Linked DNA regions of Homo sapiens. The protein of the gene in region 1 interacts with the protein of each later gene in a pairwise test. Each region holds a gene or a part of one and is shown on either strand. Other genes may lie near its edges. The genes, in order: ZBTB32 and ELF2.

Region 1 (3,297 bases):
GCCTACCTGCTATGATTCTGGATAAGCTCCAATCCTCTCTTGGGTTACTTTATTTGCTCACTCAGGACAGAGGGCTCTGATCTAGGACCAGCAACTCACACCCTCTCCCCTCACATCCACAGGCTTGAAATGAGATGAGATGTTCCTCCCTCCCCTTTCAACCATGGACCTCACACTGTGGACTTCCTCTTAGAGCCTCTGAGTTAGGTACCCAAGCCAAGGCACAATGTCCCTGCCCCCCATAAGACTGCCCAGCCCCTATGGCTCTGATCGGCTGGTACAGCTAGCAGCCAGGCTCCGGCCAGCACTCTGTGATACTCTGATCACCGTAGGGAGCCAGGAGTTCCCCGCCCACAGCCTGGTGCTAGCAGGTGTCAGCCAGCAGCTGGGCCGCAGGGGCCAGTGGGCTCTGGGAGAAGGCATCAGCCCTTCTACCTTTGCCCAGCTCCTGAACTTTGTGTATGGGGAGAGTGTAGAGCTGCAGCCTGGAGAGCTAAGGCCCCTTCAGGAGGCGGCCAGGGCCTTGGGAGTGCAGTCCCTGGAAGAGGCATGCTGGAGGGCTCGAGGGGACAGGGCTAAAAAGCCAGATCCAGGCCTGAAGAAACATCAGGAGGAGCCAGAGAAACCCTCAAGGAATCCTGAGAGAGAACTGGGGGACCCTGGAGAGAAGCAGAAACCAGAACAGGTTTCTAGAACTGGTGGGAGAGAACAGGAGATGTTGCACAAGCACTCGCCACCAAGAGGCAGACCCGAGATGGCAGGAGCAACGCAGGAGGCTCAGCAGGAACAGACCAGGTCAAAGGAGAAACGCCTCCAAGCCCCTGTTGGCCAAAGGGGAGCAGATGGGAAGCATGGAGTGCTCACGTGGTTGAGGGAAAATCCAGGGGGCTCTGAGGAAAGTCTGCGCAAGCTCCCTGGCCCCCTTCCCCCAGCAGGCTCCCTGCAAACCAGCGTCACCCCTAGGCCCTCGTGGGCTGAGGCCCCTTGGTTGGTGGGGGGCCAGCCTGCCCTGTGGAGCATCCTGCTGATGCCGCCCAGATATGGCATTCCCTTCTACCATAGCACCCCCACCACTGGAGCCTGGCAGGAGGTCTGGCGGGAACAGAGGTGAGTGGCGGGGTCTAGTGCTCTGCCTCCAGGCTGGGAGGGCATGGCCCAGGAGGGGCAGCCCTGCTGGGTGGAAGGGCACTGCATCTCTACTGCACAGTTCCTGAGCTGGGGAAGAGACAAGAAGCTGCTGCCACAGGGCACGCCAAAGCCCAGCCCCCGGGGGAGGACTTGGGATACCCCCTCTTCACGAAGGGGCCAGGCTCCCAGGTTTAGCCAAGGCTGTAACTCTTCCCCACCCCATCCCAGGATCCCACTGTCCCTAAATGCCCCCAAAGGGCTCTGGAGCCAGAACCAGTTGGCCTCCTCCAGCCCTACCCCAGGTAAGCCCCTCGCTGTCCTGCATACACCTGTAACATGGTGTCTTCTCTGGGCTGGGGCTCGAGGAGTCCAGCCTGAGCAGGGCCCCTACCTCCCACTGTTCCTTCCAGGTTCCCTCCCCCAGGGCCCCGCACAGCTCAGCCCTGGGGAGATGGAAGAGTCTGATCAGGGGCACACAGGTGAGTCGGGCGGGGGCACTCGTGCCTCAGCCCCACTGTAGCCCTTGATTTCCTGCCTGAATGGTACAGTGAGTTGGCGCTGGGATTCCTGGCCCTGCCCTCCTTTGCCTTCTCTGTCCCCACAGGCGCACTTGCAACCTGTGCGGGTCATGAGGACAAGGCAGGCTGCCCACCTCGCCCGCACCCTCCCCCGGCCCCTCCTGCTCGGTCTCGGCCCTATGCGTGCTCTGTCTGTGGAAAGAGGTTTTCACTCAAGCATCAGATGGAGACGCACTACCGAGTCCACACAGGTATGGGCGCCCTGCCCTGTGTGAACTGTCGGCTTTCTTCCCAACTCCGCTCCTGAGTCTCCACCTGTGTGCCCGGTTCCCGCGCAATCCCCTAGCCCCGTGGCCCGATCCACCCCTAACTTGGCCAGCTTTCGCCGCCTTCTTCCTTCCTTCACCGGCCTCCCCTTCCGACCGCTCTAGGAGAGAAGCCCTTCTCCTGTAGCCTTTGTCCTCAGCGCTCCCGGGACTTCTCGGCCATGACCAAGCACCTGCGGACACACGGGGCCGCTCCGTACCGCTGCTCCCTGTGCGGGGCCGGCTGTCCCAGCCTGGCCTCCATGCAGGCGCACATGCGCGGTCACTCGCCCAGCCAACTCCCGCCCGGATGGACCATCCGCTCCACCTTCCTCTACTCCTCCTCGAGGCCGTCTCGGCCCTCGACCTCTCCCTGTTGTCCTTCTTCCTCCACCACCTGACGGGGTGTCGGTAGCGTCTTAGCCAAGAGTCCAATTAAAGAACGAAAAGCGGGCCGGCTCGGCTTCTGACCTGGCACCGCTGCTACGGCGGCCTAGCAAATTCCGCCCCAGAAGCGCCCCAGGAAGGGCGCCGAGTGCCCTCTCCTGGACGATCGCGGGTCGCAGAAGCCCAGGCCAGCGAGCCCTACAGAGTGAGGACACTGAAGTGTGCAGGAGCGAAGGTTAACAGTAGGGGAGATTGTCGATCTCATCACCATAATAAAGAGTTTCCTGTGCCCTCCCTTCAGGACTAGAAAGCCGAGTTTAGTCTGTGCACACCCCCGCCCACGCCCCTTGTCCTGTAGCGGCCCCTGGTGGCCCTGCGTCCGCTGTCCAGCGGGATGGACACTTCTTCCACCCCCGAGGCGCCCCGTCCTCCCCAGGAGGCAGCCGGCCCCGAGGACTCGGTGTCCGGGCACACCTTGCGGCATGCCGGTCCTGGACTGGTGGGGGCTGTGCGACCGCAAGTCACTCGCCCCTTCCACTGCAATCCACGGCGCGCGGAGTCTGATCTGGGAACGCTCGGCCCGGGAGAGAGAGGAACGCGTGCTCCGACCCTGCTTTCGGCCACCCGCCTCCTCTCCGGGAGCACACGGACCCCGAGACCGCGGCCTCTCCGGCGTCTTCCCTCCACACCGTGCCAAGCCGCCGCCAGGTCGCGCCTGGAACGGAGACTGACTATGCTTTCCACCGCTCCTTCTCCAGCCCACGCCTCCTGCAGCCGCGAACTGCATTTCCCAGGGCCTCGGGGGTCCCGGGGCCCGAGCCCGCGGCACCCTGGGAGTGGTAGTCCACGCGGGCCGCCGGCCTAGCCAAGAACAATGGGAGGAGCCTGGGGCTAGGACCACACCTCCCGGAGACCCGGCAACCCGCTTTCCGGGTCCTGGCCGGGAACCCCGCCGTCCC
Region 2 (3,816 bases), on another chromosome or scaffold:
TGAGAATGATAATATGTCTTATACTTAATAATGCTAAGTTTTCTTAAAGTTGAGCTACACAGGCTGATTGAATCCTTTGCTTCAGTGAAGCTGCAGATAAGAGTAAGCAGGGTCACCTAAAGATAGATTTACTTAGAGGTTTGGCTGCCTCTCTGGAACCATTTAGCTTTGAACAGATTTCCATAAATGGAAAGAGCAACTGGAGAGACCCAGTACCTTGTGGATGATGTGCAACAGGTGGTAAAACAGTCATTGGATTTTTAAAATAAATGCTTTCCAAATGACTGTTGTTTAAGACTGAGGCTTTAGCATTTAGGGAACTTTGAGATGAACTGGATTTTTTCCCCCAATTAAAAGTTTCCTGGAAACAATTTTAAAAGATTCATATCGTTAGTGTATAGTGCTTATGAATTTGTAATATGACTTTATGAAATTTGTATAAACATTTACTTTTAGTTCCTTTAGGGGACATCTTAAAAAAAATCTGTCAAGTTAGAGACTCTTAAATATTCATGTTTCAGAACGTCTTACTAAGTTAACTGTTCAACATTTTAAGTCAGGATGTGAAATTAATATATTATTAAGATAATAAAATTTGTTCTTGAATTGCTGATTTTCTTGTAAGGTCAGTGGGTTGTCCTTAATTCAGTACATAAAATAAATACCTGCCTGGCGTGATGGCTCATGCCTGTAATCCCAGCACTTTGAGAGGCCGAGGCGGGTGTATCACCTGAGGTCAGGAGTTCAAAACCAGCCTGGCCAACATGGTGAAACCCCGTCTCTACTAAAATACAAAAATTAATCCGGTATGGTGGCATGTGCCTGTAATCCCAGCTACTCAGGAGGCTGAGGCAGAAGAATCGCTTGAACCTGAGAGGTGGAGGTTGCAGTGAGCTAGATCATGCCACTGCACTCCAGCCTGGGCAACAGAGCGAGACTCCGTCTCAAAAAAAATAAAAATAAAAATCCGCATGTCTGCTCCATGAAAAGTCTATGTTGGGAACCATGGCATATGTAAAGATGGGTTAAGCTAGCCCCCCAGACCTCAAGAAGTTTATAATCTTACAGGAATGATAAGAAATTATCATATTCTTGCTCTATGAGAGAGATTAAGTTGCTTACCTCAGGTAACAGAAATAAGTGGCAGAGACTGGAACCCAAGCTGTTGGACCTGAAAGCCCAAACCACTGACTGCTGTACACATTGTTTTACAAGTAACATAATCAGCAAAGCATAAAGGAAGTGCTAGAAGAGGAGAGATACAAAGCGTGGTAGAATTTGAAGGCCTCATGGGAAGAATAAACTCTAAGAAAAAGTCTTAGGTTAAAACCCACTGAGGCTCTGAAGAGAGCGAGGTTAATTATAAAGAAAGTTCTCAAGTACTCTGGCAGTAAATATAATGCATGTTGTTATCCATCTTTAGTCACCTCTGCCTGGAGAGTACAGTTGTCCCTCAGTATACCTGGGGTATTGGTTCCAGGATGTCTCCTCCACCTGGCAGATACCAAAATCCTAGAATGCTCAGTCAAGTCCCTTATACAAAATGCTGTAGTATTTACACTGTATTTTTAATTGTTGTATTTTTTTTATTGCCTCCCCCTCCCCTGCAATATTTTCTTTTTGTTTTTTTTTTTTGAGACAGTGTCTCACTCTGTCGCCCAGGCTGGAGTGCAATGGTGTGATCTTGGCTCACTGCAACCTCCGCCTCCCAGGTTCAAGCGATTCTCCTGCCTCAGCCTCCTGAGTAGCTGGGACTACAGGTGCCCGCCACCACGCCCGGCTAATTTTTATGTTTTTGATAGAGATGGAGTTTCACCATGTTTGTCAGGATGGTCTCGATCTCTTGACCTCGTGATCCGCACGCCTTGGCCTCTCAAAGTGCTTACAGGTGTGAGCCACCACACCCGGCCCCCCTGCAATATTTTCAATCTGAGGTTGTTTGACTCTGCTGATGCGGAACCCTTGGACACGGAGGGCTTACTCTACTCAGTCATTCAAGAGGGTCTGTAAGAATTGAATTAATTGATTAAATTAGCGCAGCATGGTTCTGTTAGGTGCCCTGGCTTTAATGGCAATACATCAAAATATATAATTGCCCTCACAGGGTTTTTAATCTACAACCAGCCTCTCCCTGACCCTTCCTCCCTTCCCACAAGTTAGTATTGGCCTAAAATTGATGCAGGGTTCAAATTTCAAGGATCTTTCTTTGTTTTCCTTTGAGTAAGATTCAGAAACTTCTCAGTAATTTCTTTTGTTGTTGTTGTTTTGAGACAGAGTCTCACTCTGTCGCCCAGGCTGGAGCGCAGTGGTGCGATCTCAGCTCACTGCAACCTCTACCTCCTGGGTTCAAGCGATTCTCCAGCCTCAGCCTCTTGAGTAGCTGGGATTACAGGCATGTGCCACCACGCTCAGCTAATTTTTCTATTTTTTGGTAGAGACGGGGTTTCACCATGTTGGTCAGGCTGGTCTTCAACTCCTGACCAAGGTCTACCCTCCTTGGCCTCCCAGAGTGCTGGGATTACAGGCATGAACCACCATGCCTGGCCAACTTCTCAGTAATTTCTAATCAATGTCATTGGTTACTTCATAATCAATATTCATTTTATATCAGTATTCATTTTATAAAATGTAGATATTAGCTTTTTAAAAATTATTTCTGTAATTTATATAGACGAATAGATATCAATGGCTTAGAGTTAGTCATGTTATTTTATATTTATTTATTTTTCATTTCTCTTTCAGGAGTGAATATGTTTATTTCTTAGTAATATGTTTTAGTCATGTGTTTAGTGTATTTTTAATTGAGTAGAACTTATTTTTCCTCCAGTGGAAGCATCAGTTCACAGCAGTAATGCACACTGTACAGATAAGACAATTGAAGCTGCTGAAGCCCTGCTTCATATGGAATCTCCTACCTGCTTGAGGGATTCAAGAAGTCCTGGTATGTAAACTGTTCATTCTTATGTTAAACGTGTCATACTACTTCATATGTCTAAAATAAAGTTTTTTGTTTTTTTAATCCAATGGAATTGTTGGGAATTCTCAAAGGTACATTACACATGAATACATGACAGCAGTAATTGAACTTTATTTGTCAAGGCCTCCAAGTCTTAAATACTTAATTTTCATAACAAATGATACAGAAAATACCCACTATAGATAGACAAATATTTATTAAATAGCTATTTGTACTGTCATGTCTATTTCCTTAACTCTGGGCAAGTTATAAGCCTTCATAGTCCTTCAGAGTATGATAGATGGGAGCAGTTGCCTGTTAGGACCACTTTCAATCCTTTATTCAATGATAAATAGGCAGTAACTCCAGAGAACCACACATGGTAGAGAGACAAGGGAGCTTTTGACATTTTTTTCACACATCCTTCAGTGTGAGTTTTTATTTTTTTGTGGTCCCTCTTAGTCTTTAAGAAAAACTTTGATAGTCATTTTGTCCAATCCTGATTTGTCCTAATTTTAATTTAATGCCCAAATGTTAATTTGACTTGATACAAAAATACTGGCTCACCTTCTCATTGGGATTCACAATAAGAGCAACCATACTTCTTAATTTGAATAGAATCCTGTGTATTACTCAGAGATATGAGAATAAATTTGTAGCATTTTTGGTCAGTCTATTAATCTAAGATAGTATGTATTAATTGTATCTCTTAATTGAAATAGAAATGTCATATCTTGGTTATTTGTGCACATTAGAAGGAAGCCAGAGCAACATTACTGTATGTACTAGAATACCAGATAACAATTTGTACCTACTGTTTTAGTGACTAAAACATCAGGACTGTTACATTAAATAAAACT

The links.
Region 2: the proteins of ZBTB32 (region 1) and ELF2 interact in a two-hybrid assay, tested with the Homo sapiens proteins (one large-scale study listed by BioGRID and IntAct).

Annotation. Positions count from the first base shown.
Region 1 is NC_000019.10:35,714,401-35,717,697, forward strand, and holds the end of ZBTB32 (zinc finger and BTB domain-containing protein 32), read left to right. Parts: intron 1-122; 5' UTR 123-226; coding exon 227-1,107; intron 1,108-1,356; coding exon 1,357-1,430; coding exon of another isoform or gene 1,431-1,538; coding exon 1,539-1,607; intron 1,608-1,732; coding exon 1,733-1,897; intron 1,898-2,077; coding exon 2,078-2,352; 3' UTR 2,353-2,638; downstream 2,639-3,297. UniProt on the Homo sapiens protein: DNA-binding protein that binds to the to a 5'-TGTACAGTGT-3' core sequence. May function as a transcriptional transactivator and transcriptional repressor. Probably exerts its repressor effect by preventing GATA3 from binding to DNA.
Region 2 is NC_000004.12:139,072,579-139,076,394, reverse strand, and holds part of ELF2 (ETS-related transcription factor Elf-2), read left to right. Parts: intron 1-2,827; coding exon 2,828-2,941; intron 2,942-3,816. UniProt on the Homo sapiens protein: Isoform 1 transcriptionally activates the LYN and BLK promoters and acts synergistically with RUNX1 to transactivate the BLK promoter. Isoform 2 may function in repression of RUNX1-mediated transactivation.